Regions from separate parts of the Homo sapiens genome. Here regions 1 and 2 are each reported to be linked to region 3. Evidence: microRNA targets listed by miRTarBase, many of them from high-throughput screens and not tested one by one. Region 3 holds a microRNA gene; each other region holds the end of a gene's coding sequence.

Region 1 (3,352 bases), not on the chromosome of region 3:
AGATTAGGGTTTGGCAGGTCTGGGGCAATGATTGGGACTCTTCCACAAGCTCCTTTAGAGGGCTGTTAGGCTGGCAGGGTATGGGAACTCAGACATCGCACAAACCACAAGGTGTGATTAGCAGGTCATGGCCAAAGGGAACACAGAGGGGAATCTCAGCCCCCAGAGAATCTTAACCCAAGAGGAAAGAGACAAAATATGTGACAGGTCGGAGCCCGTTCGGGGCTCTGCTTCCCGATCAGATTGCTTCCAGGCCCCAACCCCACCTCCAGGGCTCGGGCAGCCTCTTGCCCGATGTGTGGCCCACTGGGCTGCCCAGTCCTTGGCCACTCCTGAATGGACGCAGTGTTCGATTTGTGCAGGCATAGACCACCACTTCCTACTCTGAGGATGGCTGATAGGTTTCTTTTCCTATTAGCACAGCAGCTTAAATGGATCTTTTCCCTTTGTGCTGACGGCCCTTCAGACGTGTCTTCTTGAAAGCCCTCCCTCAGCTGTTACATATATTACCCCCATTGACTTTGCAGTTGAGGAAGGAAGGGACTAAAAGATAAAATTGTGACACTAAACCCAATACACTTTGTAACTGTGAAAGAAAATAACGATAAGGGTGAGAGTACAAGGCAGAACTCCACTGGGCACCCTCTGTCTGCACAAGGCCTTTTATTCTGGTGTGTACGCTCTATCCTGCCCTTGCACGATTTTGGGTCCACTTTAAGGCTTATGTCTATGCTTTGTAAAACATCTAATTTTTGTGTGTGTGTGTTGAATCAACAGTGCAAAAGCAACTTTTTTCCTCCACAGGGTAGTGACCTGCTTAACAGAGGAGTTGCGAGCACACGTGTTCAGACACCTGGAGAGCTTAACGGGCTAGTTTCACACGGGTGCTAGGTCAAGCATTCATTTCTAGACTTGTTGCTCAAATAACCAAATTCAAGCAACACTCAGAACTTTCTCTGAACGCTATACTTGTGAATATTCACTTTTGGCAGGGGGTCTAAACTTTAGACTCTAAAGAAAACATACAATTAATCATTCACAACAGAGCAAAACGTTCACACTTTTTAAAAAGAAAATGATTTTTCAAACATACAATCCCAAATTGGGTGCTTTTTTTGGTATGAATCTTTATAAAAAGGAAGTTTGCTACCCTGGTGCGAGGCTTGGAGGGATGTTTCTACAGACTGTGCGAGTGAGGCAGCTGGATATTTGTGCGGGATCTCTTTGCAAATGAAGATCAAAGTCCAAAAGAAAAAAACAATTTCACTTTATTTTAAAGACAATGATTGGCATACAGAAGGTATGCACTCGCATAAAATAAACTTTCATGAAAAGCATTAAAATCCATTATAAATTAATTTATTAAATAGGTATTTGGTATATGTGATGGTTTTATTAGATATTACTCTTATTTATTGCCAACCCCTCCCCCAAAGTCAAAACAAATCAGAAAATCCCATAACTCCAATTTACACTAAATAATTTATTTTCCCAAAATGTGTATGTGTTCTGAGGCGTGACACATGATACAGTTCCATTGGTCATTCTCTATCAATCATAATATGACAGGACACAAGAGGCTAAAAATGGCTCATCATAATTTATTTTATGTTAAAATGTACAGCTTTTTTTTGTTTGTTTTTTGTTTTTTTGAAGTGACTGACTAAAAAGAGAACAGATAAATACAAGAGTGTCGCTGGATCCTATTTTATACAAGGATTACGCCTCTCCTGCTTGGCCCTTACTGTCACCCTGTACAGGTACAAAGGCTACAAAAAAGGAAGCAATATAAACAGACACAAATAACTTTTTTGCTTTTTTACATGCGATTTGTAAGCTTAGTTTGAGCTATTCACAAGCTACTTTTCTATTTTTCCTTAAAAAATAACTCCAATATTTTATAAAGATAGAAAAATCTACAGATGGAATGAAAATGTAAAGTTAGAGGCATTTCCATAAAATAGCAACTTTACACCAAATTCACTATTTTTTTTTAAATCCTGCCAAGTATTTGGACATATATGAAATGTTTCAAAACCTGACAGATAAACACTGAGATATGCTTCATTCAATAAACAGAAGTCTGCATTTATAAAACAGAAAGCTGCCTTTTTTCCCCAAAGAAATCTGTCACCAAAATGGAAAAGGGTCTCAACTTTACACCAAACATTTAGCAATAAAACCCTTTTGACTAACCAAATGGGAATAGCTTTTATAGCTCTTTACAGTTTTATAATTAACAAAAATATAGTTTTTTTTAAAACCCTCAAATTAGGGCACCCTAATCAAGGCAAAAAACTTAAGAAATGGCTTACTGTTAGCACAACACTTGTACAGTACTACAAAATGCACTGTCACTAACAAAGACATTAGCGGCATGCTGAAGTGTCACCTTAAACAAAATATACAATAACTGAAATGCTAAAGGCATTTACATGGAGTGGACAGGGAAGGGAAAAAAAAAGCTCTAGGTTCAATATTAAAACAGATAATTTGGGGGGGCTTGATATCCACATTGTTTAACAGAAGCAGGCACAACAAGTGGCTGCCTCCAAATTGTAGTCCAAAGAGAGGCCTTCCTTTGCAGAGAATTTTATATAAAAGTAACAGAAATGAAGGTACCAAAAAAAAGAAAAAGGAAAAAAAGAAAAACAACTTGTATAAGGCTTTCTGCTGCATACAGCTTTTTTTTTTTTTAAATAAATGGTGCCAACAAATGTTTTTGCATTCACACCAATTGCTGGTTTTGAAATCGTACTCTTCAAAGGTATTTGTGCAGATCAATCCAATAGTGATGCCCCGTAGGTTTTGTGGACTGCCCACGTTGTCTACCTTCTCATGTAGGAGCCATTGAGAGACTGTTTGGACATGCCTGTGTTCATGTAGCCGTGATGTCCGGGGGCCGTGTACATCATGTTACCGTGGGGTGGGGTCTGCATTGGCTGCTGGGCATATGGCTGGGTGCCCATCATGCCCATCTGCATCTGCATAGGGTATTGGGGCGTTTGATTCATATAGCCATGATTGCTGTGGTAGCCACTGTTCATCATTGGCTGGGACATGCTGTACCCATTCATGGCGTTGAGAGTGTTCATGTTCATGTTCACAGAGTTGACATTGTAGGCTGGCGCTGGCATCAGGTTCACACTCATGTTCATGCCTCTTTGCATCGTTAAAGTCCGTGCAGGACCCTGCATGGCTACAGTCTGGGAGCGCCCATAGATTTGTGACTGATGGGTGGCAGCGGCTGGTGACAGAGACGCTGACTTGGTTCTCATGGAGATGTGGCCCTTGCTGGCAATCTGGGTTTGCAGTCTTTGGCTGTGAGAGATGCCAATATTTGATGCAGCCA
Region 2 (3,000 bases), not on the chromosome of region 3:
TGTCCCAAATCATTTCAAAGACATGAAAAAACTCACACTGGAGAGAAACTCTATGAATGCAAGCAACGTTCAGTAGTTCCTTCAGTAGTTCCAGTTCCTTTTGATATCATGAAAGGACTCACACTGGAGAGAAGCCCTATAAATGCGAGCAATGTGGGAAAGCCTTCAGAGCTGTGTCAATCCTTTGAATGCATGGTAGGACTCACCCTGAAGAGAAACCCTATGAGTGTGAGCAATGACGGAAAGCCTTCAGATCTGCCCCACACCTTTGAATACGTGGTAGGACACACAATGGAGAGAAGCCCTATGCATGTAAGGAATGTGGGAAACCCTTCGGATCTGCCCAGAACCTTCGAATTCATGAAAGGACACAAACACACATAATGCACTCTGTAGAGAGACCTTATAAATGTAAGATATGTGGGAGGGGCTTTTATTCTGCCAAGTCATTTCAAATACATGAAAAATCTTACACTGGAGAGAAACCCTATGAGTGTAAGCAATGTGGGAAAGCCTTTGTTTCCTTCACTTCCTTTCGATATCATGAAAGGACTCACACTGGAGAGAACCCCTATGAGTGTAAGCAATTTGGGAAAGCCTTCAGATCTGTCAAAAATCTTCGATTTCATAAAAGGACACACACTGGAGAGAAACCCTGTGAATGTAAGAAATGTAGAAAAGCATTCCATAATTTCTCTTCTTTGCAAATACATGAAAGGATGCACAGAGGAGAGAAGCTCTGTGAATGTAAGCATTGTGGGAAAGCATTCATATCTGCCAAGATCCTTTGAATACATGCAAGAACACACAATGGAGAGAAACCCTATGAATGTAAAGAATGCAGAAAAGCATTCAGCTTGCCTACTTCCTTTCATAGACATGAAAAGACTCACACTGGAAGGAAACACTATGAATGCAAGCAATGTGGCAAAGCTTTCACTTCTTCCAGTTCTTTTCAATATCATGAAAGAACACACTAGGGAGAAACCCTATCAATGTAAGCAATGTGCAAAAGCCTTTATTTCTTCCACTTCTTTTCAATATCATGAAAGGACTCACATGGGAGAGAAACCCTATGAGTGTATGCCAAGTGGGAAAGCCTTCATTTCTTCTAGTTCCCTTCAATATCATGAAAGGACTCACACTGGAGAGAAGCCCTATGAATATAAGCAATGTGGGAAAGCCTTCAGATCAGCCTCGCACCTTCAAATGCATGGAAGGACTCACACTGGAGAAAAACCCTATGAATGTAAGCAGTATGGGAAAGCGTTCAGACCTGACAAGATTCTTTGAATACAGATAATGAATGTAAACAATTAACTGTTTATAATAACTGTATACTAACAAATGATATTCTTTTTAAATAAGAAGCTATAATATCCCATTGGTGTCATGTATTAGATCAGCCTTATACTGTTAAATTGTTATTATTTGGACATTGTGAGTCAGTATAACCATGTGGATAAAATGCCAGACATCTTTTTATTCGAAAATTTTACTTTTCATGCTTCTGTACTTACATTTTTATCTCAACCTTAATTTTTCTTTCTTTTTTTTTTTCCCCCAGAAAGAATCTCACTCTGTCACCCAGGCTGGAGTGCAGTGGCATGATCTCAGGTCACTGCAACCTCTGCCTCCAGGGTTCAAGCAATTCTCCTGCCTCAGTCTCCTGAGTAGCTGGGACTACAGGCATGCGCCACCATGCCAGGCTAATTTTTTGTATTTTTTAGTAGAGACGGGGTTTCACCATATTGGCTAGGCTGGTCTCAAACTCCAGACCTCATGATTTACCCACCTCGGCCTCCCAAAATGCTGGGATTACAGACATGAACCATCATGCCCAGCTGCAACCCTAATTTTTCATTCAGTCATAATACCAATAGTTATCTCATGCACCTCTGAGTGCCTTCTTCCCCAAAACCAGCAGTGCCATACCTGCTGTCAGCAAGGGTGTAATATACCATAGTGATAAATATGACCAAAAGCCATAAATGACTGTGAGATGTATGAGAATTACAAGTCACATTAGTAAGAAGAGAAAAATTTTGGTCATGTTTATGATTTGAAATACGTTTTCCTCTATCACATTTAAAAATATAGTTACAAAATGCCCTTGTTTTTGTCCTGATTCATCATGGTCACTGAGGAGCATCGTCTCATATGCCTGGTATGTGACACGTGTCTCTCCAACAATAAAAGACTTGGCCTTGGCTGGGCATGGTGGCTCACGCCTGTAATCCCAGCACTTTGGGAGGCCGAGGTCAGGAGTTAGAGACCATTCTGACCAATATGATCAAACCCCGTCTCTACTAAAAATACAAAAGTTAGCAGGGCGTGGTGGCATGCTCCTGTAATCCTAGCTATTCAGGAGGCTGACATAGGAGAATTGCTTGAATATAGGAAGCAGAGGTTGCAGTGAGCCGAGGTTGCACCATTGTACTCCAGCCTGGGCAACAAGAGTGAAACTCTGTCTTAAAAAACACAAAAAAAGACTTGGCCTTAGGGCCGAGTGCGGTGGCTCACGCCTATAATCCCAGCACTTTGGGAGGCCGAGGCGGGCGGATCACTAGGTCAGGAAATGGAGACCATCCTGGCCAACACAGTGAAACCCAGTCTCTACTAAAAAATACAAAAAATTAGTGAGGCGTGGTCTCAGGCTCCTGCAGTCCCAGCTACTTGGGAGGCTGAGGCAGGAGAATGGTGTGAACCTGTGAGGTGGAGCTTGCAGTGAGCCAAGATCGCGCCATTGCACTCCAACCTGGACGACAGAGCAAGACTCCATCTCAAAAAAAAAAAAAAAAAAAAAAAGACTTGGCCTTGTGGTGAGGGGAGGGCATCTGTAAACTCCTGGACCTGTTTTTGCCTTACTTATTCTCTAAAGACTAAAATATTTCCTAAAATGTACAGGCACTGTTTACCAGAAAGTACCTTAGTTAAAACATATAAATTTGTTTATGCCTTATAAAGCTATATTTTTTCAAATTGCTTTACTGAGTCATA
Region 3 (3,286 bases):
AGCCCAATTCAGAGCCCTCTCCCAGAGCCCTGAGCCTTCCAGCCGGACATGGATTGGACAGGTCTGCTCCGGCCTGTGTGCTGGGGCCAGGAGTGGGCACATGACAGAGGAGACACATTAGGGTCAGGCTTTCGTCCCTTTAGGAGGGGCTGGCAGGTCATCTTCCTGCCCACTCGTGGAGCTGGCCTGGCTGCCCTGGCCCAGCATGGTACCCTCTCTGCCCCCAGAGCCGGACAATGATGCTCACCTACGCAGCTCCTCTCGCCCCTGCAGCCCCGTCCACCACCACGAGGGCCATGCCAAGCTGTCTAGCAGCCCCCCTCGTGCAAGCCCCGTGAGGATGGCACCGTCGTACGTGCTCAAGAAAGGTTCGGGGGGCACGGGAGGGTGGGTCAGCTTGAGGCTGGGAGTACAGATTACGCCCGTAGCTGCCTTTCTCATGGCCCCCTGTGGCGGAGGGCCGGGCTATGGGCTCCTCTCAGGTACACCCCTGAGACACCAGTGTGGGAGCCACGTTTTGCAGAGGATGACACAGAGGCATGAGATGGTGAATTGCTTACCCAGTCATGTGACTCACGGATGTCACTCCACATCCTGTCAAAGGAAGCCGCAGGGCCCGCACCTCGCCCCGGCCAGGCAGGTGGAGGCTGGGCTAGTCCTGTGCTGTGTCCCCAGCCCAGGTATTGAGTGCTGGCAGCCGGAGGCGGAAGGAGCAGCGCTACCGCAGCGTCATCTCAGACATCTTTGACGGCTCCATTCTCAGCCTTGTGCAGTGTCTCACCTGTGACCGGGTGGGTGCCCCAGGGATGGGGGGAGCTGGGCCAGGCTGCCAGTGGCCTCAGCAGCTCTTGCCCTGACTGGGTGCAGGGTGGGCTCTCCACGGGTGCTCCCTGCTTTTATCCAGGGGAGGGCCCTGCCTGCGTGGATCCCGTGTCTATGGCCTGGGGAGTAGTCCCTCTGCCCCTCACCTGCTGCTTGGGGTTTGGGGTGCAGACATTGCCAGAGGATGGGCAGCAGACTGACCTTCAACCCCACAGGTATCCACCACAGTGGAAACGTTCCAGGACTTATCACTGCCCATTCCTGGAAAGGAGGACCTGGCCAAGCTCCATTCAGCCATCTACCAGAATGTGCCGGCCAAGCCAGGCGCCTGTGGGGACAGCTATGCCGCCCAGGGCTGGCTGGCCTTCATTGTGGAGTACATCCGACGGTGCGCCCACCTTGCCACTACTGGGCGACATGGGCTGGGCCTGTCCTGGTTTTCCTGGGCGGGAGACAGTACACAGTGAAGTCCATGCATTTGGGGAACCAGGGAGGTCCTGGGAGGAGCTGGGGGCCGAAGCCTGCAGAGGAGTTGGCTTAATATGCAGGGGATTTCTTGGCTACTTTGAAGTGGCCAGGATTGGATAGTCCCTTGGAGCTGGAGGGCGATGGACAGCAGGGAGGTGACCACATGGCAGGTTGAAGGGAGGGCAGCAGCAGGACACAGGCCTGGTTGGCGGGAAGGGCAGCAGCTTTCCCAGGGCTGCCTCTCCTGCCTGAGGCCAGAGACCCGCATGACCCCAGGGAGGGGGTAGCATGATCATGGCCGCAACACAGATGAAGGAGGCCAGGCTTGCGGAGAGATGATGTCACTCGGCCCAGGACACGGACGTGTCTGGCTCCAGGCCTCTGCCCCGACCCGCCGTGCCCGGCTGCTTCTCTGGGCCTTCAGGGTCCTTCTGCGGCTCAGGCCTGACAGACCTCAGCCAGAGTCCCTTCAGCTCCTGTTCTTGCCCAGGCCCTGGCAGCACCCCTGCACTCCTTTTCTGTCTGTAGGTTTGTGGTATCCTGTACCCCCAGCTGGTTTTGGGGGCCTGTCGTCACCCTGGAAGACTGCCTTGCTGCCTTCTTTGCCGCTGATGAGTTAAAGGGTGAGGGGCCTGGCTGGCAAGGGTCGGGGAGGTGGAGGGTTGTGGGGACGGGGATGTGCAGACCCCAGCAGGCCAGCATGCAGCCCAGGGCTTGTGGGATGCACAGCCAGGCTAGACTTGGCTTCCAAGGTTGATCCCATCAGATACCCACGCCCACTGCCAGCCACGCTGGACCAGGGCCATGTGCTATCCCAACCCCATCATCTTGCAGCTCTTGAGTGTTCACTTATTTTTATTTTTACCAATTTGGTGGGCAAAAATGATGTATGTTAATTTTTCATTTCCTTGATTACTGATGAGTTTCTACATTTTTTGTTAAATATACTGGCTCTATGTATTTATTTAAACATTGCCCATTCCTGTTCTTGTTCTTTTTCTCCGTTGGCTATTTGGCATCTAAACCTTTGGGAAAACTCTCTCTTTTTTTTTTATTTCCAATTTTCAATTGCGATAAAATACACAAAATGTAAAATTTACCACCATAACCATTGTAAATGCTGTTTTTAACAGAAAGTGCACAGTCGAGTAGTGTTAAATACATGCACATGGTCACGCAGCCATCCTCCCCATTCATCTCCAGAACTTTTACATCTTGCAAACCTGAAACTCAGTATCCGTGAAACAGCTCCCTACTCCCACCTCCCAGCCCCTGGCAACCTCCACATTCAAGTCTGTGAATGTGACTACTCTAAAGGCCTCATAGAAGTGGAATTATACAGTACTTGCCATTTTGTGACTGACGGCTTTTACTGAGCATAACGTCCTTAGGGTTCATCCACGTTGCAGCGTGTGTGTCGGAATGCCCTGCCTTTTGTATGCTGGTTATTTATTGTTCCATTGTGTGGATGGCTGGGGCCTTTCTGCTTATTCGTTCATCCGTCAGTGGACACTCAGGCCGCTTCCCTGTTAGCTATTGTGAGGAATGCTGCTCTGACCATGGGTGTGCACACCTCTCTTCTTTCATCCCTTTGGGTCTATGCCTATTTTTAATTTCTCGAGGAGCCACCGTACTGGGTTCCACAGTGGCCACCCCATTTCACATTCCCACCAGTGACGCACAAGAGTTCCAGTTTCTCCACATCGTCGTCCACACTCATTTTGTTTACTTTTTTGATGGGAGTCAACCTCATGGGTATGAGGTGGTATCTCATTGTGCGTTTTTTTTGTTTTGTTTTGTTTTGTTTTTGAGACGGAGTCTCTCTCTTGACGCCCAGGCTGGAGTGCAATGGCATGATCTCGGCTTATTGCAACCTCCACCTCCTGGGTTTAAGCGATTCTCCTGCCTCAGCCTCCCGAGTAGCTGGGATTACAGGCACATGCCACCACGGCTGGCTAATTTTTGTATTTTTAGTAGAATGGGGTTTCACCATGTT

What was found. The annotated mature microRNA hsa-miR-6855-3p reads AGACUGACCUUCAACCCCACAG and lies in region 3 at 1,016-1,037, shown strand. An mRNA with a match to its seed (bases 2 to 7 or 8) in the 3' UTR can be bound and repressed. Matches are read on the target gene's strand: a 7mer-m8 pairs with bases 2 to 8, a 7mer-A1 pairs with bases 2 to 7 and ends in A, and an 8mer does both.
Region 1: miRTarBase lists KAT6B as a target of hsa-miR-6855-3p. Seed matches in the 3' UTR shown: 8mer at 1,657-1,664.
Region 2: miRTarBase lists ZNF440 as a target of hsa-miR-6855-3p. Seed matches in the 3' UTR shown: 7mer-A1 at 1,865-1,871.

The regions. Positions count from the first base shown.
Region 1 is chr10:75,030,523-75,033,874 of GRCh38, reverse strand. KAT6B (lysine acetyltransferase 6B) reads right to left here. Exons shown (of 18, transcript NM_012330.4): 18 at 1,251-3,352. The coding sequence ends at 2,829. Among named protein-coding and RNA genes, the nearest start is that of SNORD172, 10 kb to the right of the region's middle. RefSeq lists enhancers at 581-630, 3,251-3,352.
Region 2 is chr19:11,832,581-11,835,580 of GRCh38, forward strand. It overlaps ZNF440 (zinc finger protein 440), which reads left to right. Exons shown (of 4, transcript NM_152357.3): 4 at 1-2,636. The coding sequence ends at 384. Among named protein-coding and RNA genes, the nearest start is that of ZNF439, 15 kb to the right of the region's middle.
Region 3 is chr9:129,868,635-129,871,920 of GRCh38, forward strand. MIR6855 (microRNA 6855) reads left to right here and starts at 971; the gene lies at 971-1,037. It overlaps USP20 (ubiquitin specific peptidase 20), which reads left to right. Exons shown (of 26, transcript NM_001110303.4): 12 at 228-368; 13 at 676-791; 14 at 1,038-1,210; 15 at 1,819-1,913. RefSeq lists an enhancer at 1,586-2,085.